Linked DNA regions of Homo sapiens. The protein of the gene in region 3 interacts with the protein of the main gene of each other region in a pairwise test. Each region holds a gene or a part of one and is shown on either strand. Other genes may lie near its edges. The genes, in order: NDOR1, CCHCR1, NAB2, PHF1, PSMA1, KIF9 and CWF19L2.

What was found.
Region 1: the proteins of NAB2 (region 3) and NDOR1 interact in binary tests that used the Homo sapiens proteins (3 or more experiments, as listed by UniProt).
Region 2: the proteins of NAB2 (region 3) and CCHCR1 interact in binary tests that used the Homo sapiens proteins (3 or more experiments, as listed by UniProt).
Region 4: the proteins of NAB2 (region 3) and PHF1 interact in binary tests that used the Homo sapiens proteins (3 or more experiments, as listed by UniProt).
Region 5: the proteins of NAB2 (region 3) and PSMA1 interact in binary tests that used the Homo sapiens proteins (3 or more experiments, as listed by UniProt).
Region 6: the proteins of NAB2 (region 3) and KIF9 interact in binary tests that used the Homo sapiens proteins (3 or more experiments, as listed by UniProt).
Region 7: the proteins of NAB2 (region 3) and CWF19L2 interact in binary tests that used the Homo sapiens proteins (3 or more experiments, as listed by UniProt).

The regions. Positions count from the first base shown.
Region 1 is NC_000009.12:137,212,200-137,215,699, reverse strand, and holds part of NDOR1 (NADPH-dependent diflavin oxidoreductase 1), read right to left. Parts: intron 3,199-3,500; coding exon 3,101-3,198; intron 1,921-3,100; coding exon 1,822-1,920; intron 1,734-1,821; coding exon 1,632-1,733; intron 1,497-1,631; coding exon 1,287-1,496; intron 1,131-1,286; coding exon 1,009-1,130; intron 903-1,008; coding exon 682-902; intron 606-681; coding exon 498-605; intron 294-497; coding exon 179-293; intron 42-178; coding exon 1-41. UniProt on the Homo sapiens protein: NADPH-dependent reductase which is a central component of the cytosolic iron-sulfur (Fe-S) protein assembly (CIA) machinery.
Region 2 is NC_000006.12:31,144,871-31,147,802, reverse strand, and holds part of CCHCR1 (coiled-coil alpha-helical rod protein 1), read left to right. Parts: intron 1-1,994; coding exon 1,995-2,107; intron 2,108-2,309; coding exon 2,310-2,355; intron 2,356-2,500; coding exon 2,501-2,637; intron 2,638-2,729; coding exon 2,730-2,918; intron 2,919-2,932. UniProt on the Homo sapiens protein: May be a regulator of keratinocyte proliferation or differentiation.
Region 3 is NC_000012.12:57,087,911-57,091,913, reverse strand, and holds the start of NAB2 (NGFI-A-binding protein 2), read right to left. Parts: upstream 2,801-4,003; 5' UTR 2,643-2,800; coding exon 2,560-2,642; intron 790-2,559; coding exon 1-789. Other genes in the region: NEMP1 (nuclear envelope integral membrane protein 1), read left to right, coding at 3,830-4,003. UniProt on the Homo sapiens protein: Acts as a transcriptional repressor for zinc finger transcription factors EGR1 and EGR2. Isoform 2 lacks repression ability.
Region 4 is NC_000006.12:33,409,715-33,413,813, reverse strand, and holds the start of PHF1 (PHD finger protein 1), read right to left. Parts: upstream 2,801-4,099; 5' UTR 2,599-2,800; intron 1,567-2,598; coding exon of another isoform or gene 1,551-1,566; coding exon 1,392-1,550; intron 1,307-1,391; coding exon 1,225-1,306; intron 1,117-1,224; coding exon 1,021-1,116; intron 619-1,020; coding exon 518-618; intron 406-517; coding exon 257-405; intron 79-256; coding exon 1-78. UniProt on the Homo sapiens protein: Polycomb group (PcG) that specifically binds histone H3 trimethylated at 'Lys-36' (H3K36me3) and recruits the PRC2 complex. Involved in DNA damage response and is recruited at double-strand breaks (DSBs).
Region 5 is NC_000011.10:14,507,382-14,510,386, forward strand, and holds part of PSMA1 (proteasome subunit alpha type-1), read right to left. Parts: intron 386-3,005; coding exon 275-385; intron 1-274. UniProt on the Homo sapiens protein: Component of the 20S core proteasome complex involved in the proteolytic degradation of most intracellular proteins. This complex plays numerous essential roles within the cell by associating with different regulatory particles.
Region 6 is NC_000003.12:47,227,498-47,230,799, reverse strand, and holds the end of KIF9 (kinesin-like protein KIF9), read left to right. Parts: intron 1-2,097; coding exon 2,098-2,148; 3' UTR 2,149-2,802; downstream 2,803-3,302. UniProt on the Homo sapiens protein: Essential for normal male fertility and for progressive motility of spermatozoa.
Region 7 is NC_000011.10:107,451,326-107,454,825, forward strand, and holds part of CWF19L2 (CWF19-like protein 2), read right to left. Parts: intron 3,248-3,500; coding exon 3,125-3,247; intron 1-3,124.

The DNA.
Region 1 (3,500 bases), on a different chromosome or scaffold from region 3:
CAGACTCCCAGGCCGCACCCAGAGGGGCACCCGGACAGGTCCTATTGCAGGAAGGAGGTGGCATGAAGAGGATCAAAGACCTGTGCTGAGTCTGCTGGGGCCCTAGCCCAGCATTTGCATGAGCATGGGAGAGAAGGGGATATGGGCCCACGGCCCCCACCCTGGGAGCAGGGGTCACCTTGCCCAGGGTCCAGGGATGCCAGCCAGGAGGAGCAGAGGCCCCGGCGGGGCTCCTTGAGGCGAGTCTGGAACTGCACTACAGCCACGAGGATCTGCAGCCGTGAGGGGTGAGTCTGGGGAGGACGGCGGGGTGGGGGTGGTGGAACAAGGCTGCCCTCACCTGTGCCTGGGCCGTGGGCCCCACCTACCTCCCGCAGAGGCAGTCCGACTGGGGGAACGTCACCTGGTCAGAGGGCAGCCCCTGCTTACAAAACCCCACAGCCCCGGTCCCAGCTTTCCCAGGGCCGGTCCTGGGCTCCAACCACCAGGCCCCTCACCAGCAGCGAGGAGGCGATGGAGAAGGCCCTCGGCCGGATAACGGGGATGAGGTCCAACAGGTAGTCGGGAGGGATGGCGGCAGCTGTGTGCGGGAAGTCACAGAGCACCTAGGCAAAGAGAGTCTCAGGGTGGCTGCAGCGTGGCTGTAGCTCAGGGGCTGGGCCTGCCGCCCTCCCATCTCACCTCCAGGATGGTCCTGCGGGGCCGGTTGCAGTATTCAAAGAGCTCCTCCTGGCCTTGGGCAGAACTGAACTCCAGCAGCTTCTCCCGCTCCAGCTCATGGAGGGATAGACAGGCCAGGAGTTCGAAGAAGGAGCGGCGAGGCACGCTGGCGATGTCCAGGTAGTGGGACACGAGGTGCCGCATGGAGCAGGGCTGGGGCAGCCTCGTGGGGGAGGAGACATCTGCAGGGTGAGTGGGAGGCCTCCGTGGGCTGCGGCGGAGCCCTTGGGGTGGGGGCCCAGGGCACGGGAGAGGGCAGAGAGTCAGGGTGGCCGAGGCTGGGCTCACCTGGCTCCCGCGGCTGCAGCATGAAGAGCTGGTCAGGGTCCAGGCCCAGCACCTGGCAGAACCGCTGGACATGGGCAGCCGAGTTGGAGGGCTGAATCAGCACCACATCACCAGCAGCAAAGCTGTGTGGAAGAAGCCACCAGGGCTGTGGGGACGCCGCAGGGAGGATGTCGGGGCCCCGGATAGAAGTCATCCCCTGCAGCCCGGCCCAGCCTCCTCCGAACCCCAGACCCACGGCCCACCTCACCTTGCCCTCCTCGGTCCCCAGCAGTCCCCACCTGATGCCAGAGCCCAAGATGTCAAACTCAATCAGCCGAACGTCCTGGAAGTGGGAGGGGCCGGTGACTCTCTGGTTGGAGATCATGGGTGCTAGGAAGGGCTTCGACTCTGACGGGGGCTCCTGAGAGCCGGGGTGAGCTACCCGCTGCCCCTCAGAGCCCGTGCTGGGTGCCTCTTGGAGGAACAGCAGGGTGAACTTGGAGGGCAGGCTGTGGGAGGGCACGCTGGTCAGACCAGGACCCACTCCCCAGGGGCCGCCCACCCACACGGGAGGGACCCAGGGCGAGGTCCCCAGGCCAGGTTGGGTCTGCTGCGCCTGTGGGTGACCCGGGGCCCACACTCACGGGACTCCGGGAGGGATCTCAGTGAGGCCCGGAGGCGGCGGGTACAGCCCCAGAACCCTGTCCCACAAGTCTCGCAGCCAGGGGTCCACAGCAGCGTCGGGCCTGGGAGGGAGCACGTGCGCTGGCCTGAGCGGACCCTGCGTGTGGCCAGACCAGACTGTGGAGGCGGGTACCACGCCCGCAGACTCACCCCAGCTCATGCTGGTCATCGCCCAGGCACACGGGCAGGAGGGCGCTGCCCCCAAGCTGCAGTAGCCGTCGGTGCAGCTTCTTGGCCACGAAGTTGAACCTGTGGAGACAGTGAGGCTGGTCCTGGGCTGGAGCCCGGGCGGAGAGTGGTGCCCAGGCAGAGTGGAACCCGGGAGAGTGGAGCCCGGGCGAAGAGTGGAGCCTGGGGAGGGCCTCCCTCGGGTGGAAAACACACTCCACGCTGGCCGCACCCTAGGAGGGGGCAGGGCCTCCACACGCCAGGGGCTGCCGAGACCAGGGCAGCTGCCAGGGTGCCAAGCAGCAGGTCCTCTGCTCGCAGAGAATGAGCCTGTGTGGGTGGGAGCAGGCGGCCTCGTCCCACTGATGGGCCCTCATCCCTGGGCAGGGACTTGAGGCAGCTGAGGCCTCCAGGCCCCCAGCCAAGATGTGGGTCACTCCTCAGCTGAGAAACTCTGTGCTGGGGAGAGAGCCAGGCATCTTCCCGGGGGTCAGTTTCTCTTCTCACTCTGGTTCCGAGGCATGACTGGCTCTGGGTCACGCTCCTCCCTGGGAACGCTGTCGGCAGCGGCCTCCCTCCCTCTCTTGAACGAACACTGTGTCCCACACAGAACAACGTCACGCAGGAAACAACGTCATGCACGGACCTACGTCACGCACGGAACAAAACCTCCCGGCAGAACCGGGGGGAGCTGTCTCCGATCTTCCCGTTCTTTTTCATCTGAAATGACTGACACCTGGCTATGCAAACGGCTTTTGATGCTCGGTGCTCAGCGGACCTGGGCCCTACGTGGACAGTCGGGGTTTTCACCGTTGTGGGGTCTAAAGATGCCATTTGCACACTGAACATGCCACTCCTTGCTTAGGGTGCAGAGGAGCACTGTGAAAATGCCCAGGAGAAAAGGCAGAGGTGGCCTCTGGGGTGGCAGGAGCATACGGGGTCCTCCTCCAGGCTCAAAGTCGTCAACACTTCACAGCACGCCTTTTTGTAAAAGTGGGGACCGGCGCCAGGTAGGCCTGTGTGACGTCAGCGTGGCTGGAGCCCAGCCCTTTGCCACCCTGCCTGCTCCCCTCTGTGCCCTCCCCGCAGCGTGAAGCCTGGGGTGCCCACCAGGGAGCGTTGTGGAGAAGCCAGTACCACTGCGAGGGCCCTGAGGCGCGCAGGGGCCGACCCTGGAAGCTGGTCTCGGTCCTCTGCCAGCACACCTGTTGCTCGACCCCCAGAACTGTTCCGTCCGCCCACTGTCCCATCCCCTACTCACTTGGCGTATGAGGAGTCCCCGAGGCCCAGGACGGCAAAGTCCATCTGACAGAGGGCAGTGGAGGGCAGGTTCTTCCGGAATATAAACCTCCAGAAGTTCTACAGCCGGAGGAAACTCTGAGTCAGAGTCCTCGACCTCTAGGCTAGCCCCACAGCAGGGGGTGAGGGGAGGGTCTCAGGGGAACAGGCAGGTGGGTAGGATGGGGGCAGAATACAACTGGACCTATCTGACCAAAAGGCAGGGCCCAGGTCCAGCCTGCAGGATGATGGGCACCGGGAGGAGGCAGGGCTGGTCCAGCGTCTAGGGAGACCAGGTCCCACCCTGCCCACAGGAGCCAGACCCTGCTGTGCTCTACAGGCCTGCGTGGAGCTTCCTTCCTGGGACATCACCCTCCTCTGCC
Region 2 (2,932 bases), on a different chromosome or scaffold from region 3:
TAGGGACGGGGTTTCACCATGTTGGCCAGGCTGGTCTTGAACTCCTGACCTCAGGTGATCCACCCACCTCAGCCTCCCAAAGTGCTGGAATTATAGGTGTGAGCCACTGCACCTGGCCTAGTCTATTTATTTAAAGCTATATACTTACTTGCTTATTATATACTTAACTTGCTTACTATTCCATCTAAAATGTAAGCCAGTTAGTTTCCTTCTAAATCAATTGCCAGCCTTTGTCTCTCCTACCAACTTCCTAGTTGTTTCATTACCTACAATTGTTGTATGACCTTCAGAAAAACCTCTAAGAAAACAGCAAAGCTTCTTTGTGCTGGTGATGACTTCCCCTCAGCCTTAGACACTGAGGTACCCAAGGCAGGTAGTTCTTTTTTTTTTTTTTTTTTTTTTTGAGACAGAGTCTCGCACTGTCACCCAGGCTGGAGTGCAATGGCACGATCTCAGCTCACTGCAACCTCTGCCTCCCGGGTTCACACGATTTTCCTGCCTCAGCCTCCTGAGTAGCTGGGATTACAGGTGCACACCACCACACCCGGCTACTTTTTTGTATTTTTAGTAGAGACAGGGTTTCACTGTGTTGGCCAGGCTGGTCTCAAACTTCTGACCTCGTGATCCGCCCGCCTCGGCCTCCCAAAGTGCTGGGATTACAGGCTTGAGCCACCGTGCCTGGCCGGCAGGTAGTTCTTAGCACAGTCTCTGGCTTGTAAATGTTTATTGTTATCGTGAGGCTCTTCTTGATGGGTTAATTTAGATAAAGATAATTTTTGGTTTAGCGAAATTAAGATGCAGGATGAGTCCTTGCCCATCACTTCCTTCTCTTGGATTTGTACCTTAGGGACTAATTTAGCTTTAAAAATTATGAAAAATTTCAAACTTGCACGGAATTAAACTAGTTATAATGACCTACCACCCAGGTTCAATCCATCGCGGGTGCCCCCTACCTCCAGGAGAACAGAAAGATGCACTGTGGACAGGGTTTGACTTTGGTACCAGGCGATCACAGAAATGGTCTGTGTAATGATGCATTTGCCGAAAGTCCTCCAGGCTTAAAGCAGTCCAAACTCTGATTGTTGCTGGGTTTATTAGATTGTCTCTAGGTAATTGGAGACTTTAATAAGGGCTGTGGTAGGTGTTGGAAGCATCTACTGGAACAATTTCCAGATCAAAGTGAACTTTGCTGTGCTGCTGGGGATGCAGCTGCAAGCCTTCATCATCATGTGTTTTTCTGTGGGTGCAGACCTGGACTCTCCTGAGGAAACCCCAGCCCGGCCCCAGACACTCCTTGGCCTCCTCCTGGGGCCTGTTTAAGCTGCTCAGTTTTCATGAGCCAGGTTGGTCCTACTTCTGGCACAGCCAGCTGGTAAAGCATGTGGACCTGCCCGTCATTGGTGCTAGATCGACACTCCTGGGCTTGGAGAGGATAACTTTGTTTTCTTTTGTTTTTTTGAGATGGAGTCTCGCTCTGTCACCCAGTCTTGAGGGCAGGGGTGCGATCTTGGCTCACTGGAACCTCCACCTCCTAGGTTCAAGTGATTCTCGTGCCTCAGCTTCTGGAGTAGCTGGGATTACAGGCATGAGCCACCATGCCCGGCTAATTTTTGTGTTTTTAAGTAGAGAGAGTTTCACCATGTTGGCCAGGCTAGTCTCCAATTCCTGACTTCAGGTGATCCGCCCGCCTCGGCCTCCCAAAGTGCTGGGATTACAGGCAGGAGCCACTGCCCCTGATCAGAGAGGATAACTTTACTCTTTGATACACGATAGTGAGCAAAACACAGTTGTGAGAAATAAGCTTAACAGGTTGCTTAAAAAGATAGTCATTTAATGCATTCTTGGGGCAAGGGTCCTTTAGATAATTGACGGAAGCTGTGCGTTCTGTACTTGTATAATGGGACAGGATTAGAGGGAGTTGTCTATACAAGGCACAGCAAGTCCTTTGGGAATGAGGGGAGGCATGGAGGATCAGTGACTTGTGCCCTCTCCAGCTCTCAGATCTGGCTCGAGACCACCATGGCTAAGGTGGAAGGGGCTGCCGCCCAGCTTCCCAGCCTCAACAACCGACTCAGCTATGCTGTCCGCAAGGTCCACACCATTCGGGGTGCGTAGGACAACTGCGAGCCACGTCCTGCCCCCACCCCACCAGCTCGGACTTTCTTCTTCCTGACCCAGCTCTCTCTGATCCCACATCCATTCACCTTCCTCCTTTCACCAGTCCTTGCATCTCTTTTTCCCTTACTCCCTGTCCCCACTTTCTCCCATGCAAACTTCATCTCTTTTTCTCCCTGCTTTTTCCCCTCCAGGCCTGATTGCTCGAAAGCTTGCCCTTGCTCAGCTGCGCCAGGAGAGGTGAAGTTTGGGCACTTTGAGGTGGATGGGGCTTTAGGGCATTGGCTGCTGGGACCCCCAAAACCATGAGGACTGAGGTGGGATGGGGGCTTTGGGATCAGGCAGCTGGGTGATTTCTTCTGACTCTTTCTCTTCCCCGTCCCAGCTGTCCCCTACCACCACCGGTCACAGACGTGAGCCTTGAGTTGCAGCAGTTGCGGGAAGAACGGAACCGCCTGGATGCAGAACTGCAGCTGAGTGCCCGCCTCATCCAGCAGGAGGTGGGCCGGGCTCGGGAGCAAGGTACACCTGGTTGCCAGGGGGTGGAGAGGATGAGGAAAAACCCGGTGTCTAGGGTGCTGGGAGAGGCCTGACCCAGCACCCCCTCCTTTTAGGGGAGGCAGAGCGGCAGCAGCTGAGCAAGGTGGCCCAGCAGCTGGAGCAGGAGCTGCAGCAGACCCAGGAGTCCCTGGCTAGCTTGGGGCTGCAGCTGGAGGTAGCACGCCAGGGCCAGCAGGAGAGCACAGAGGAGGCTGCCAGTCTGCGGCAGGAGCTGACCCAGCAGCAGGAACTCTACGGGCAAGGTGTCGAGAGGGAA
Region 3 (4,003 bases):
TTCTGGCTGTCATTATCATCCATCTCAAAGATGTGCCCAACGCTCCGTGCCAGCTTCTTATTCAGCTTTAGCAGGGATGTGACCTCCCCAGCATCCCCCCTTGGGAAGCTCCGGAAGATCCTCTCCACACTTTCCACCACCATGCGTACCATCTCTGGCTCCAGTCGGTCTGGACCACCCCCAGTCCCACCTGCTGCCAGCCCCCCAGCCCCAGTCCCCTCAGGGACTCCTCCCCCTGCAGGGGGGGAGAAGGGGGGCGAGCCAGCCTCCTCTTCTCCTCCTGCCCCAACGTCCGACTCTGGAGTGCTCCGGCCTGGCCAGATCCGGGGGTCCCCTGCCCCAGGTCCCCCAGGCAGTGGTGATAGCTTCTCTCCAAGTTCAAGGGGGCTCTTGGGGCTAAAACTGCGGGCACTGCCTGCCTTTTCCCCTGGGCTGCCATGCCCATTGCTCATGCTCCCTTTCCGGGTACCCGCAGTCTCAGAGATCTTGAAGAGCGGGATGCTGGAGACGGGAACAGCAGGCACTGGTTGACTGAAGAGCCCTGGATTGGTGGCCCACTCTCTCAGTGCCTTCTGCAGGCGCCGGACATGGAGGGGCTTGGTGGCCATGCCCACAAGTGCCATGATCTCCAGAAACTCCTCCTCACCCGCCTCACACAGCTGCTGCACGTCGTCCCCTCCCTGCTGGATGAAGGTCTCATAGTAGGAAAGGAGGTTGGCGCGCTGCAGGACCCGGTACAGCTGCAGCTCCCCCAGCGTCCGAGGCAGTGCCATGGCTCGGGCACTGGGCCTGAGAAGGAGGGGCACAAGAGAGAGGCAGTCGGTGCAAGTCCCCCTACTGGGTACCAACCCACACTAACAATTGTTCCCTCTTTCCTGCCTGCTTTTCTTCCCCTCCCTCATTTGGATGCTATCCTGCCCAGTGCCCAGGTCTGAGTACAGACTCTCAGAATCAGGCACTGCTCAGAGGCATGGACAAGCCAGTGCCGTCCTAGACTGGCCCGAAGCCCCAAAAGTCAGTGGCCTGTGTCTGTAGGAGTCGAAGCGTCTTACAACCTTATCTTCAGCTTTTATCTTTTTGGTCTGGGGCAAGAAGAACTTGAGCGCTGAGGCTGACCAGCACCGACCTGGGATGGCTGGACCTCCCTCTCCCCCAAAACACAATCCTCACCTTCCCCTCTAAACACTCAGCAGTCTCAACACTGAAGTGAAGTCACCCATACTAAAGTGAATGTAGGAGCCCAGTCTCCCCCACAGTGGACGCTGCTGGCCAGCTTCATTCCCTGTGAAGGGGCCACAGCCCCAGGTGGCTAAAAGGGAGGGTGTGGCACCTTCCCTGGCTTTCCCACTCAGTGAGCCAGGTGGTGCCTTACTCTTCTCCGCTCAGCTTTTCCCAGGGGTTAAGCATTTATTTATTTATTTATTTATTTATTTATTTGAGACGGAGTCTCGCTCTGTCACCCAGGCTGGAGTGCAGTGGCGCTGTCACTGCAACCTCCGCCTCCCGGGTTCAAGCGATTCTCCTGCCTCAGCCTCCTGAGTAGCTGAGATTACAGGCGCCCGCCACCATGCCCGGCTAATTTTTGTATTTTTAGTAGAAACGGGGTTTCACCATGTTGGTCAGGCTGGGCTCGAATTCCTGACCTCGTGATCCACCCGCCTCAGCCTCCCAAAGTGCTGGGATTACAGGCCTGAGCCACCGGGCCCGCCCGGCCTGGTTAAGCATTCTTAACGCACGCTTCCTCTCTCCCCTCAGAACCTCTCCACCCTTCCAGGCTGCCCAGTGCTCCTCAGTGGCCCCTCTCCTAGCAGTGACACTCCCCACTTCCTCGGTCAGCCTTTTCCTTCAGCTCAGGGGCCGTGGCAGGGGGAGGGGCGCAATTGTTCTGCTCCGGGGCCGTTCCGCCCACACACACTCCCACAGTGGTAGCGTCTGTAGGCGAAAACCGCCCAGGGGCTCCCGCCTACTCTCCTCTCCCATATTTTCCACCCGCATCTTCAAGTGGAGTGGGGGAGCGGCTCAAGGCCTCTTGATGAAGGGGCTGCACACTGAAACTCCCCTCCCCGCTCTGTGAATAAAGGGACAGATATGGGAAGGAACGCCTAAGGCCTCCCTGCCTCCCTCGTCACCCCCCCTTTCCCCCGCTGATGCTCCTTTAACTCAAAGGCACCGGGGGCCCGCGCGCTCCGTGCCAACGAGGGACTGAGGCAACTGAGCGTCCCCCCACCTTCCGCACTGATGCCAGCTCGAGCTCCAGGGCATCCCCTGGTGCTTGGAGGCTCCCACATTCTTTGCAGGGGGCTCTTAGGCCAGATGGAGCCCACAGAGTAAACCAGGAATGGAGATTTGGGTACTACTCTTTCATATCCAGCTTCATCAGATGCTTGCCTGCTCCCAGGGCCCCCTAATTCGAAGACGCACCCCCTTTTCCATCAGTCTCCACCCCCCACCCCCGTCCTGCTTCCCCACGTCCTCCCCTCGACCTCCGCCCTCTGGACCCCATTCCCAAGTCCAGCTCCACCCATCTCCACTCCCCGCTGCCTCCCTTTGCCCACTAACTTGAGTCTGGGCTGCAGGGTCCGGCGGGCGCTGTCCCCTCCGCCCGGCGGCTGCTCGGCTGTGGGGGAAGGCGCTCTGTGCATGGACGGCCGGAGATCACCCGGGCTGCCCTTCTCGGTGCCCGGCGCTCGGCGCCTGCTGCGTGCTGCCCTCTTCCCCGCGCACGATGCCGTGTCCACCGCTGTCCAGGCTCTGTCCCTCCCTCCACGTCTTCTCTCTCCGAGCCTCCGCGCCTCTGTCTGTGCCTCTGCCCCCCCACCCTCCCCGGCTGCGCTTGCCGCCTCTCCGCGCCTCCGCCCCCGCAGGACGCACAGGGAGCGAGGCCCGGAGCTGCGCTGGCTGCCGGGCTGGCGGGCGGAGGGCGTGGGCAGAGCCGGGGGCGGGGGTGGGGGCGGGGGCCGGGGAGGCGGGCGCTGGGGCCTCTCGGCCGCGGAGACGCCGCGGCTTAGAGACTGGGAGAGGCGGAGACGGGGGGGGAGGGGGTGTGGAGCAGGAGGCGGGGGCGGGGATTCAGAGCCGGGGCGCCGAATTGGGGACCGAGGTGACCGAGGCCCGGCTGTGCAGGGCGGGCTTGGGGACCCAGCGGGCGGGGCGAGGTCGTTCTGTGCCGCCCACGCCGGATGCACAGCCGGCCCTCTTGGCGCCCACGTACCCACGTGAGCGCCCCGCCGGCGACATTCCTTCTCTCCCCCACCCCTCCGAGCTGAGAGAGGAGTTTCACAACCACGCACAAGTACACAAAGACACAGAAGCGCACGGACGTGCACACGCGCCTAAACAACTACGGGGACGCCCGTTGCCCATACTCAGGCCTTGTGGTGCTGGACGTGTGAATGTTAGCAGTGAGCCGGGAAAAGTTAGCGAAGGCTGGGCTGTGCGGCTTCTCCTGTGCGTGCATCTGACTCCCGTATAGTGTGCACTTAAGGCGGGCCTGAGAGCGTGGGGCTCTGCAGGGATCTCCTAGATATCCCCGCGCCCCTCCTCAGCCCCAATGGAATAATCTGAGGGGGTCGCTCTCAGAAACCCAGGCCTCCATGCTAGCCTGGAAAGTTTGGGAAACAGGAATGGGAGGGTTATGCTGCACGCCACCACTTAGGTGCGCGTGTTGATTAGACGCGTCGGCTTTTGTCAGCGCGTAGGTCAGGCAGGGATTCCTCCACTTGTCCTCTGTTTGCTGAGGATGAGGCCCTGCCTGGGAATTTTGTGTGACAAAGACGATACCCTTCCTGGGGCCGTCTATTAGGGACCTCGCCCGAGAGTCTAGTGGAAGATGAGTAAGAGGTCGGGAGCCTACGACGTGACTTCCTGCGGCGGAGCTGGAAGGAGGAGCGCCTTGAAGGAGCTTAGCCCCCGCCTCTGCAACCCACCACCGTCTCCCCCTTTGGTTTCTCCTAGCCCCATCTGGTTCGCATTGCACTCCCGCCCACGGCTGGGAGGGCTGTTG
Region 4 (4,099 bases), on a different chromosome or scaffold from region 3:
GGCTTGCTCAGACACTGGGTGCAGGCCTCATGGAACCACTGCAGGCAGCTCCGGCACTGCAGCATTTTCAGGTTCCACCTGAGGGGGAACACAGGACTTCTGGCCTCCAGAAACCCCCTTCCCCATAACTGTCCCAAACCCTAAACTTACCTCCTATCCCCCTGAGTGCTACCCTCATCCTGTTCTTTTTCCTTCATTTCCTGGGATCCACCACCACATCATTCATTCCACAGTCTGCTCCCCTCTCATTACTCACTCCCCAGGGCCACCACAGTAACAGTAACTCTGCTGTCGGTTGCTCAGATGTCCAGCATCCCAGTCCAGCCCCTTCAGTCCATATGGCAGAGAAAGCTTCATACCCAGCATGGCCCGGGCATAGGGGCCCTTCTTCAGGGCACCTCCCCTCTGCAGAGACAGGACAGGTGGGTGGCTTCAGAGGGGTGGGGAGAGGAAAAGGCTTGGGAGAGGCTGTGGATGGGAGGCTCCCACAGGAAGGGTAACAGGGAAGTGCCTTTACCTTGGTGGCGATCGCAAAGACACACTGGCGGCATACCCAGGATGTGCCCTCTCCCTCTCCAGGGGCTGGAGCCCTGGGAACATGGCAGTCCTGGTGATAAGCTGCAGTGATAATAGTAGACCACTTATTGCATACCTGTGTGTGCTTGGTATTGGGACAGGAATAGTCTTTACCCATCTCATTTAATCCCTGACCATGGTCTTGATGAGGGGGTGCATTATCCTTATTTTACAAGTCAGGGAACTGAGGCTCCTAGAGGTTAAGGGACTTGTCCGAGGTCATATGGTTAGAAAAGGATGCATTTAAACCATCTTCTGCCTGCAAAGGTTATACCACCCCTTTCCATGGCTGCTTCTCCCTGGGCTGAAAGCGGATGAGGACTAAGATAAGGCTAAGCAGCCTGGCCAGAGCAGTGGCTTGGGGACTAAGGCCAGGACAGGTGATATAGAGACCATCCTGGAGGGAAGAGCAAGCTGGACCATTCAGGTGACCTGCCCTCTCACCATGGCGACACTTCTCACAGCTGACCAGCCGGTTCCCAGGGACCACAGTCTCAGAGCGACAGACACAACAGAGGAGTTCCTCTCCAGGGAGGGCAGCTGTGAGAGAACACAGTGTCACAGGGCCTGCCTTTAAGTCTCTTTCTGCCCCTCTAGGCCAGGTTTGTTTTCCATGGGATGTGCAATCTCAGGTCTCTAGAGTCTTACCAGGGCTAATGTCTTTCCATAGAACCAGAAACTGCGAATCATCCTCAAACTGGACCAGACACACCTCCCTAGCACTGTCCACCTGGAATGGGTGAGCAAACAGGATGAAATGGGAACCAGAATTAGATAAGGGAACTAGGAAGAAGGTCAGAGGTAGAAGGTCTTACCTTTTTGATGGTACCCAAGTATAGCAGCCCATCAGTCCATCTGGCCAGCACATCTTGACCCTCCCAAAGCCGAGGCCTGGGGCCAGAGGTGGGAGCAGGAGAAGCTGGGTCCCAAAGTGAGGAGGCACCAGAGCGGCTCAGCCGGGGGGGCTGCGCCATTGCATCCTGGGGGGGCCTAGCCAGAAAAGAAATGGGGAGGAGAAGGTTATGAATGCTGAGAAACCTTCCCCATTTTCTTTTTCTTTTTTTTTTTTTTTTCCTGAGATGGAGTTTTGCTCTGTCGCCCAGGCCAGAGTGCAGTGGCACAATCTTGGCTCACTGCAACCTCCACCTCCCGGGTTCAGGCAATTCTCCTGCCTCAGTCTCCCAAGTAGGTGGGATTACAGGCGCATGCCACCATGCCTGGCTAATTTTTGTATTTTTAGTAGAGATGAGGTGTTGGCCATGTTGGCCAAACTGGTCTCGAACTCCTGACCTCATGATCCACCCACCTCAGCTTCCCAAAGTGCTGGGATTACAGGCGTGAGCCACCGGGCCCGGCCAGCCTCCCCATTTTCTTTGCCTATTTTGCCATCAAGAATGAAGTATCTGTGCCCCCATCTCCAAATCCCTGAGACACCTTGATAGGAAACCACTGGGCACCCATCACCAGCTTTTTGAGTCCTCTTCCAACTCTAGTGACTGGCTCTCCTCTCGGTAACTAACAGCCCTCCCCCCGACCCCAAACCTAGTTGCTAGTTTCCCAGCTTCCAGAGCTCTCCTGGGATATTATATACTGGCCTTGAAATTTTAGGAGAAATTATGGTTGTAGAAGCAAAGGCTACTCAGTTTAGAGGTATCATAATTAGGGTGTCCTGTTGCCCAGAGACGTGTTTTGGGACCTTTTCTGGAGATGTTTTCCAGAGCAGAAACGGCTGTCTCCCCAGGCCTGCGCGTCTCATTAAGAACAATCATCCTGGTGCCAGGTTATGTCAGGTCACCCTCAAATTCGGGGCTCCCTGCCCCCGGGTTAGACAACTTCTCTGAGTGCCCCGGGAGGGGGGCGTGTCCCAGTCCCGGTCTCTACTCCCCAGGACGGCAAGTCCGAGAAGGGACTTGTGTCGGCCCAGCCCGGACCCGAGGCCAAGGCGGCGAGGCTCTCCCGCCCGCGCCCCGCGCCGACCCCCGGCTCCCTGCCCCCCACCAGCGCCTCCTGCCGCCTCCTTACCGGTGACAGCTGGGGCCGCCGGGAGCCGGGCAGGGGCAGACGTAGGAGACCTAGGCGAGTCCCCCGCGCGGAGAGGGCACGTCCGGGCGTGGGGGGGCGTGCAGGCGGAGGCCGGGGGGTCCCCAGGCCCAGCCCCTCCGTCCCGGCGGCTCTGGGGCGTATGACGCAGCAGCCAAAGCAGCGGCAGCGGCAGGAGGAGGAGGCGGCGGGGGGGAGGGAGGGAGGGGAGGGACGGACCGGTTGGGGGGGAGGGTGGTGGGAGGGGAGGACTGGGGGAAAGGAGGAGCCGGAGGGGGGGGCGGGCACCACCTCACCCCACCTCCCTCACCTCCAACAGGCCTGGAGGGCGCCGAAGAAGAGGCTGGCCCTCCGCGGCTTGGGGAGCGAAGAGTCGGACCCGGTGGGAGAGGGAATCCCCTCAGCCCCTTCCTCCGACCTGAGATTCGCCCTTGGGGCACGAGGGAATCCCCCCTCCCGGCAGCCCGCCTCCGGCCTGGTCCCCCGCCCCATGCCACATCCGTTAGCTGCCCCACCCCCCATGGTCACTCCAAGTCCCGCCCCCCGGCCCCAGTTCACAGCCCCGCCCTCCATTCACCCTTCTCGATGCCCCCACCACGCCCTCCTCCCTCGCGCGCCCCGCCCTCCCCGTGACGAGTCGCGCCCCACCCACCGCCCTTTTGCGCACGCGTGTCCCCTCCTGCGCGCGGCACCTGGGAGGACTGAGCCCCTCCTTCACCGGGCGGCGGCCGTCGGCGGTTGGCGCGAGGGAGTCGGCGGGCGTGCGCGCCGCTTCCCGTGGACGTCCCGCCCCGTGCTTCCAGGGCTGGCGCAGACGAAGGGCGCGAGGACCCAAGGCGGTGACGCCACCGAGAGCCAGCCAATGGGCAGCGAGCGGGCAGAGCCCCAGCCGTTCGAACGGAAAGGCAGGGAAAGGGCGGGACGGGAGGAAAGAGCCAACAGTTTGGGAGCGCGCGCTAGCCCCGCCTCTGGACTCTGGGGTCCGGTCCCCATTTGCCGACACCCACCAAAGGAACGTTCTTCCCTGGGGCTGGGGTGGCCGGCGGAAGGGTGAAAGTTACCTATAACTAGTGACCAAGGAGGGGGCGTGGATAGCTAGAGGGCACACCTCCCTGATGTGACGGACGGGGTAGGGGGTATTAGCAGAGGGGAAGATGATCCAGGCCAAGGTCCAGAACCGGTGATAGCAGAGGGGAGAAAAGACGAAGCCCTCAGCCCCCGCTCCCGCCTCCCACGTAAACGTTTGGCAGAGGGTACAGATCACAGCTCCCACTTTTACAGATATGAAAGTATCTGCCTTCTTGGGCAAATGCTAATAAAACCTTTATTTAAAAAAAAAACCAAACTATTCTTTATTTGATAGCCCTGGGACATGGTGCCCTCCACCCAATAAAGCACCCTCCAGCAACCCTCCCACCCCTCACCCGATACATAGACATAGGGACACACACACACACACACACACACACACACACACACACAC
Region 5 (3,005 bases), on a different chromosome or scaffold from region 3:
GGTCTCCATCTGTTGACCTCGTGATTCACCCGCCTCGGCCTCCCAAAGTGCTGGGATTACAGGCATGAGCCACCGCACCCGGCCCCCTTTTTGTGTTTATGGAGATCACTGCCCTTTCAATATTTAACTTTACTCAGTTCTTAATTTTCCTGTTGCCATTTGAATTATGGGCCCATTTCAATATTTAAGACAAAATGGAAAATTTACAGACACAGTTGTGGTAAGAACAGCAGCTTACAATAGAACTAAAGCCTCTTGTGTTATGATTATATACCTGTGCCTTTCTCTGTGGTCTTTCTTCAAGACCTTCCAGGAATGGAGACACATCATCATCATCATAGATTGTAAACTCCAAGTCTTTACCAACAATTCCAATGGAAACATTCTGAAGGGTAAAATATGGTAAAAGTAAAATAAGAGAATTTGGATGAAAAAATACATACGATAAAATATTGGGTGAAAAAAGCAGAATAAGAATTTATATAGCATTTGAATAAAACCTTAAAAACCACTTATGTGTAGGAGAAAAAAGAAGGAAACTAGTGGACCCTTGTCATTTGCAGATTTAATATTAATACTAACTTTTGATTATCATGAGTAACTCCAAAGATCTATGTTATCTAGAAACATTTTTTTAAAAAGATAATGCAGGCTATAAAGTCTTCACATTGATATTAAACAATAATTATCCAATCACCATAACAAAATGGCTTTATAAAACTGACTAATCTCACTTTATTAATGATCATTAACTTCAAGTAGGCCTTAGTGGTTCCTGGATCCCACTATACCCATTTCTACATCATTCATGCTCCCCTTCTTTTAGACACTTCTAACATTCTCCAAGCTCTTTGAAGCTGAAAACCTTGTTCCTATATTACTGCGAAAACAGAAGCAATTAGAAGAGAACTTTCACAAGTTCCCACTGTATCCACTCTTTCCTGTACCTATGTCCCTAGATTCTCTCCTTTCCCATTAAAACTTCCTAAGGCCAACCCTTCCACCTATGTACTATTAAAGGACATTGTTCTAACAATTTTCTCATTATTTTTCCTCATAAATGCTTCCCTAAATTTACTTGGATTACTCTCACAATCATGCAGCAAATGTGATGTAATTTCTTCCATCTTAAAAAACAAAACAATTTATTTCTCTCCTCTTCCAGTCACCACTCCATCTCAAAAAAAAAAAAAAAACCCAGATTGTAGGGGTAAATAGATAGTGGGGCTATGGGTAGAAATAGTTTTAAGGCTATTCAGGTAATTCATGTGAGAGATGATAGCGATTGGAGCAGAGTGACAGAGTGACCGTCAACAGAAATATCCTCCAAAAAGCTATCTGCAATTCCTCGTCTCCCATTCTCTCCTGATTCCACTATCAGGTTTTTGCCTTATTATTCCATTAAGCCTGTTTTGTCAGGTCCTCAGTGACAACTTCATTGCCCCTCCTCCTTGAAAGTTTATTCGTTTGCCTCCAAAGATGCCTCATTTTCCAAGTTTTCCTCCTACTTCTTTGACCACCTCTCTCAGTCTTTTTTGCCAACACCTAACTCATCTCCCAGTTGCTAAAGGTTAGTGTTCTTGGTCCAGTCCTCACAATGCTTGTCTAACTATTCAATTCCTTTAGGAATCTCTTCCAGTCCAGACTCTAAATGCCATTTCTATATAAAGACTTCAAAAATTTGAAATGTAGGTTGGACCACTCTCCATGGAACTCCACGTGTTGCTTATAACTGCTTACTCTGTACCGTCAATTAGACAAAAAGGCATTTCAAATTTTACATGTCCGCAACTGACTGCCTGACCTTCCTCCCCAACGCCTACTCTAAAACCTGTTCCTCCCACTATCTTCTTCACCTCAGTAAATCATAAATCTTTCATTCCAATTAATTAGGCCCAAAACCTTGGAGACATTCCCCCCTCACACCCTATAACAAATCTATTAGCAAACTTTTTTGGCTGTAATTTCAAAAGATATCCAAAATTGAACCACTACTCTTCATCTTTAACTCTGTCACTCTGCTGCAATCACTATCATCTCTCACATAATTACCTGAATAGCCTTAAAACTATTTCTACCCATAGCCCCACTATCTATCTACCCCTACAATCTGTTTTTTTTTTTTTTGAGATGGAGTTTTGCTTTGTCACCCAGGCTGGAGTGCATGCACCGCCACGCCCGGCTGATTTTTGTATTTTTAATAGAGACAGGGTTTCATCGTGTTGGCCAGGCTGGTCTCGAACTCCTGATCTCAAGTGATCCACTCACCTCAGCCTCCCAAAGTGTTGGGATTACAGGCGTGAGCCACTGCGGCTGGCCCACAAACCGGTTGTTTTTTTTTTTTTTTTTTTGAGACGGAGTCTCGCTCTGTCGCCCAGGCTGGACAGGCTGGAGTGCAGTGGCGCAATCTCAGCTCACTGCAAGCTCCACCTCCCAGGTTCACGCCATTCTCCTGCCTCAGCCTCCCGAGTAGCTGGGACTACAGGCGCCTGCCACCAAGCCCGGCTAATTTTTTGTATTTTTAGTAGAGATGGGGTTTCACCGTGTTAGCCAGGATAGTCTTGATCTCCTGACCTCGTGATCCACCTGCCTTGGTCTCCCAAAGTGCTGGGATTACAGGCGTGAGCCACCGCGCCCAGCCTCAATCTGTCGTTAAAATGCCAAACAGAGTGACTGTTTTAAAACCTAAACCAAATCATGGTATTCCTCTGCTCAAACTCTTAACAGCCCACCCAGAGTAAAATGCAGAGTAACCACAATGGCTTATGGGACCTCCATTACCTCTCTGATTTCTTCCCTTTTCCTCTTCCTCTCGATGATTGACCTCAACACTACTGGCCTCCTTGCCTTAAATACTAGGGCCTTTGCATTTGTATTTCCTAGAATAATTTTGCTCTAGATCTGCATAGCTCATACTCACTTACCTCCTTTATATCTTTTCCTCAAATTTCATTTTCTTGGTGAGAATATCCTCAACCACCTATTTTAAATTACACCTACCTACA
Region 6 (3,302 bases), on a different chromosome or scaffold from region 3:
CCAAAGTGCTGGGATTAGAGGCATGAGCCACTGTGCCCAGCCTGGGTAACTTCTTTTTTTTTCCCCCACAAGATGGAGTCTTCCTCTGTCACCTAGGCTGGAGTGCAATGGTGTGATCTTGGCTCACTGCAACCTCTGCCTCCCAGGTTTAAGCGATTCTCCTTCCTCGGCCTCCTGAGTAGCTGGGATTATAGGCATGCGCCACCACTACCGGCTAATTTTGTATTTTTAGTAGAGATGGGATTTTTCCTGTTGGTCAGGCTGGTCTCGAACTCCCGACCTCGGGTGATCCACCCGCCTCGACCTCCCAAAGTGCTGGGATTACAGGCATGAGCCATCGTGCCTGGCATTCTTTTTCTTTTTAATTAAAAACAATTTTTTAAAAATAGAGACTGGGTCTCCCTATGTTGCTCAGGCTGGTCTTCAGTTCCTAGACTCAAGGGATCCTCCTGCCTGGGCCTTCCAAAGTGCTGGGATTACAGGCATGAGCCACTGCACCCAGCCTTTTTTTTTTTTTTTTGACAAGGTCTTGCTCTGTCACCCAAGCTGGAGGGAGTGCAGTGACACGATCATAGCTCACTGCAGTCTTGATATCCTGGGCTCAAGCAATCATCTCACCTCAGCTTCCCAAAGTGCTGGGATCATGGGCGTGAGCCCCTGTGCCCAGATAGTTATTTTAAATAAATTCTTATTTTATGCTTTTTAAAAGGCTTTATTGAGACAGAATTTGCATACCATACAATTCACCCATTTAAAATGTGCAACTCGCCAGTCACGGTGGCTCACGCCTGTAATCCCAGCACTTTGGGAGACTGAGGTGGGTGGATCACTTAAGGTGAGGAGTTCAGGACCAGCCTGGCTAACATGGTAAAACCCTGTCTTTACTAAAAACACAAAAACTAGCCGGGGATGGTGGTGCACACGTGTAATCACAGCTACTCAGGAGGCTGAGGCAGGAGAATCGCTTGAACCCGGGAGGCAGAGGTTGTAGTGAGCCGAGATTGCGCCACTGTACTCCGGCCTGGGTGACAGAGCGAGACTCCATCTCAAAAAAAAAAAAAATTCTAAATCATTAAGCAGAGGAGTCCTGTATTTCTACAGGTCAAAATTCTATTCTCTCATTCCCCAATCTCTATAATTCTCTGTGTTGGCCATTTTTAATGTTTAAGATATGCCCATGCACAGACTTTTTATGCAAATGTTATACTCGAACCATTCCATGTTCTTTCAATTCTATGTTTTAGTTATTTAAATATATACTTTTATATAGGAAACATATAGATCAGATTTTTCATGGTCAAAATCTGTTTCCTGTTTTACTGAGTCTCATGGTGGCTTGACAGTGGCGTGTGTATGTGTGTGTGTTTGTGTGTGTATTGAAATCGTGACCTTGTGTTTGATTGAACTTAAGCTCAAGGAGACCTGAACACATAAATAGAAATTATTTTCCCCCTGAAAAGGTTTGCACTTGCTTTCTGCAGTTACCCATGGGGCATTACCAACCCAGGACCATTTTAACCCTCTTCAAGAATTCCAGTTTAATATGGGAGCTTCAATTCAGACTCCTACTTTGTGGGGAACCTAAGATTCCATGTTCCAAGCTAGTTTTAGCGTTTGCTGGCTTACAGCCCACTGTTTCTGTTTCAGCCTACAGTTTTCACCTGCTTTCTAAGAGCCTAGTGATGCATTAAAAAGGTATAATTTGTGAACATCTGATTGATTGCAGTGGCAAAGAGAGGGCCCTTCTGAATACCTGGCCCCTAACTCCTCTGGAGATAGAACCCTCTTCTTTTCTTTCTGAACCTATTCCCTATCAGAAACTCCCAAGAATGCCCTTGAAACCTATATGCCTCCTTTCAAATATGCCTGCCAGACTGTTTTAAAATAGTTTTACACACTTTCTTTAGGATAAAAGAATGAAAGAGTTTGAATGGATGTTATTTCTCAGAGAATTGGGGCTACTCAGAAGGAATCCTTGTCCACAACCCATGATGTTTGCAGGAGGAATGATAGGGTGAATGTGAGTGGCCTGGTCTGAGTCCCTGCTATGTCTGTCCCTCCTAATAAGTTCCTGTTTTCTCTTCCCTCTGTGTCCAGCATAATTACTTGAAAACCATGATGGGCCTCCAGCAGGCACATAGAAAATAGAACCTCATCGCCAGTACCTTAAAGGACAAGACCAGCAACTCCCACCTACTGTAGTGGAGCTGCTCAACCACCTGCCCAGAGCTGCAGCCCCCTCTACTCCAATGCTGGGACCCAGCACAGAGAACACATTTGGCCTGCATGTTGGGAGGAGCATCCTCCAAGGACAACCTTGCTCATCTCCACAGAGCACTTTGGGTTTTAATTCACTGTCTTATATGCAGGGACAGGATAAAATAACTTTCTAGTTTGGACTTTCAGTGCTCATCTGAGAACTTTGTCTTATTTCCTGTCTGAAAGGACATATTCTCTATGTATGTGTGAGGTCAGAACTGAGTCTCAAGTAGGAAGGCAGAAAAGTAGCTCAGCCAGGCTCCTCCTGGCAGGCCTTTGTCACACTGGTCAGCCCCTTTCCTGGATAGACATCCTAGGGTGGGGGTGGTGAGCTCGGTCTGAGGAGCTCTGCTTCTCACAGCTCCCTCAGACCCTAAGTTCTCTCAAGACATCTTTTCTGTGTTTCTGAGCCAGTGAAGAAGACAGGAGGAGGCCCTCCTTCATTTGGCAACCAGGGGAGGATAAGGTCTAGCCACAGAGACCAGAAAGGGATGAGGCAGAGCTGGCTCCATGTACCAGGGAATAAATGAGCAGCTTCTGGGAGACATGTCCTCTGCATGTTTCCAGAACACCACGGCCTTCCCTACGCAGCATGCACGGCCACCAGGCACCAGGGTGCCTCCCCTCCCCGCTTTCTCTCTCCGTGTAGGCTGCACTGAGCAGAAGTGAAAGTGAACGATTTACCCTGAATAGGAACTGGGATCACTGTCAAGGCTGAGCAGGGAAGAGAGAAGATATCACTCTCTATCAAGTTACCAGGCTGCAGCTTGGGCCCTTGGTGGTGGCACCAAAGGGAAAGAGTTCATTACTTTGCTCAGAGAACAAACTCAGGCCCTCTGGGGCCTTCCAGGCTGACTGATACGCCCCTGGGTTGGTAAACCAAGTCTCCACTGAGCGAAAAGTTTCAGTGCTTCCTTGGAATTGTATCTCACCCCCTCTTCTGTTCTTATGGGTCAAGGCCTTGGCCTGACACTCTGTGGGTGCTCCCCCGTCTGACACCCTCATCAGGGCCTTGAGGTTTCTGTTATTCTTCCAACAGTGGG
Region 7 (3,500 bases), on a different chromosome or scaffold from region 3:
GAGAAAATTTTATAAAATAAATACACGTTAGAAAAGATTTCAAATCAGTGGCGATACATTCATCTTAGAAAGTTAGAAAAAGAAGAGCAAATTAAACACAAAGTATTCGCAAAGAATAAATATAGTTTAAATCAATGAAATAGAAAACACACAACCAGAGAAAATTCAAGGAAACTAAAAGGCAATAAAGAAAGATTAATAAAACTGATAAGCCTCAAGACAGACTGACAGAGGAAACAAACAGAAAATAGAAATTACCAAAATCAGGGATGAAAGAGGGGTATCACTATGGATTCCGTAAACATTAAAAGAACAAAGGAAATATTACAAATAACTTTATGACAATAAATTTGACAATTTCTATGGAATAAATTCCCAGAAAAACCGAAATTACTAAAACTAACTCAAGAATAAACAGAAAGTATTTAACACAACTATTAAAGGAATTAACTCTGTCGTTAAACCCATTCCACAAAGAAACTCCAGGACCAAACCGTTTCACTGGCAAATTTTAACACTTATAGATGCAAAAAAAGCACTTACCAAATTCAATACTCATTCAAGATACAAACTCTCAGAAAACTAGAAATAAAATGTCATTTCCTTAATCTGAAAAGGCATACATGAAAGTCCCACAGCAGACATCATGCTTAAATGTAAAAACCTGAATGCTTTGCACCTAAGATAAGGAAAAAGGCAATCATGTCCACTCTCACCACTTCCATTCAACACTATTTTTAAGTCCTAGCTACTGAAATAAGGCAACAACAATTAACAAATAAAACAGGCACAGAGACTGAAAAGAAAAAAGTAAAAGTCTTTTTCACACATGACATACCATTTACCTAGAAATCCTAAGAAATCTACTAAAAAAGCTACTAACACTAGTATTAGTAATTTTAACATGGTGATAAGAGGCAAGGTGAATATATCAAAAGCAGGTTTTTTTTCACTTTTTTCTTTTTTTTCTGATCCTAATGTTTCAAGTCACTTCTATAATTACATACTAGCTGTAAACACATTTAATTTAAAATTCCACTCACGATAGCACTTCCAGAAAACAAAATGGAAAAAAAATAACAAACGACATGTAAGATCTCTACACTAAAAATTTCAGAACATTGTGAGAAAAATCAAAGACATAAATGGATAGAGAGATGTACCAAGTGCATAATGGATTGAAAGAATATTTTAACATATCTATCTCCCTAAATTCCTTCCAATAGGGAAAATTCAGCCTTTTCAACAAATGATGCTAGAAAAACTGGAAATCCACGTGGGAAAAAAATAAACTGACACTACACAACATAAATAAAAATTATTAATGGATTATAAATAAGCAAAAAAGCCAAAGCTATAAAACTTCTAGGGAAAAAAAATAGGAGGCCAAGCATGGTGGCTCACACCCGTAATCCCAGCACTTTGGAAGGCTGAGGCAGGAGATCACTAGAGCCCAGGAGTTCGAGACCAGCCTCGACAATATAGTAAGACTCCATGTCTACAAAAACAACTTTTCTGTACTACATCTGTAGTCATAGCTAATTGGGCTGCTAAGGCAGCAGGATTGCTTGAGCCCAGGAGTTTGAGGCTGCAATGAGCCATGATGGTGCCACTGCACTCCAGTCTGTGCAACATAGTGAGGCTCCATCTCTAAAAACAAACAAAAAACAAAAAAATTTAATAATAACATAAACATAGGAGAAATCACAATCTTGAGGTGCGCAAAAATTAGGATACCAGAAGCACTAAGAAAAAATGATGAAAAACAAAAAAGAAAATATTTAATAAATCAGATTTCACAAAGACATGGAATGCCCTATGGGGACTTAAAATGATGCTCTACATCCTTGTTCTTCAGAGAAATATCACACGAGACATTACACAGTAGAATAGCTAAAAATTACTAAGACTGACAATACCAAGTACTAGCAAGGATGTGGAATTCCTTGGTGACTCCTAGTGCTAAACTTGCCTCAGAGCCAATGGACAGGTGGTTGGGGGGCAACTGGTGCAGCTAAGGGAGTGCTTACACCACCTCTCCCCCAACCCAAGGCTGCACAATGTGCAGCTCCAAAAGAGACCCTGTCCTTCTGCTTGAGGAGAGGAGAGAGAAGAGTAAATACAGGACTCCATCTTGCATCTTGAATACCAGCTCAGCCATAGCTGGTAACCACTAAAGAGCCCTTAGGCCCTGAATAACCAGCACCAATAATCGGGTACTACACTGTGGCCTTCACTGTGTATCTGAGACTTGCTGGATTCAGGTGAGACTCAGCACATTCCCAGCTGTGGTGGCTATGGGGAGAGCCTCCTTCTGCTTGAGAAAAGTAAAGGGGGCTCTGTCTTGCGCCTTAGGTACCAGCTCAGCCACAGGGTGGTAGAACACCAAGAGGGATCTTGGGGTCTCCAGCCCCACGCCTTGGCTCTTGGATAGCATTTCTGGATCTGCCCTGGCCCAGGGGGTGCCCACTGCCCTGAAGGGTGAGTCCCAGGCCGGGCAGCTGACTGAAGAGTTCTTGGGCCTTAAGGGAACATCAGTGGTAGCCTGCCAGTACTACCTGTGGGTCTATGGTGGTGGCTACAGGGTGAGGCCCCTCTGCCTGTGAAAAGGGAAGAGTGGGAAGGACTGCCATTCATAGGTTGAATGCCAGCTCAGCCACAGTTCAATAGAACACCAGGTACAAGTCTAAGGTTTTTGACGCCAGTACCTGGGTCCCTGATGGCACCTCTGGACCCACCCTCAGGCCTGGGGGAACTTGCCACCCTGAAGGGAAAGACGCAGGCCTGGCTGGCTTCATCACCTGCTGATTGCAGAGCCCCAGGGCCTTGAGTGAACACCAGCTGTAGCCAGGTAATTGTTACAGCAGGCCTTGGGCAAGATCCAGTGCTGTGCTTAGCAATAATTCCCAAATCATATCCCTATCCTCTTAGCCTTTCTCTGAAATTCAAGATCAACATTTCCAATATTTTCTGGACATCTCTAAGTAGATGTATCCCAGATATTTTCATATCATAACTAGTAATATATTTTTTACGTTTTCTTGTATTTTAACTTCCCATAAGTTACACATTCAAATAAAATGTTCTCAAATAGCTGCTTTGATTAATTTTAGTACATACTTACTGATGAGCTATCAGATGACTCATTGTTTTTTTCATATTTCTGTTTCTTGCTCTTTTTTTTCTTTTCTTTCTTTGCTTTTTTTGAATGCTTGTCTTTTTTCTTCTTTTTCTTCACAGAGTGTTCCTACAATCATTTTGAACAGGCAAGAAAATAATTTAATTTCATCTTAATTTAAAAGGATGTATTCTGAGAGAAAAAAAATAAACCACATTCTAAAAAACTTTCAATCTCTGATGAAATAAGACCAAGAATATGTCTAAATAAATAAAATCTTTCAGGAAATCTTAACACACCTTCTATAATATATGCACTATCAATAAATCATATAACTGAGACTTCTTACCAGAAAAATACTGGGAAAATTTTGGCTTTATTT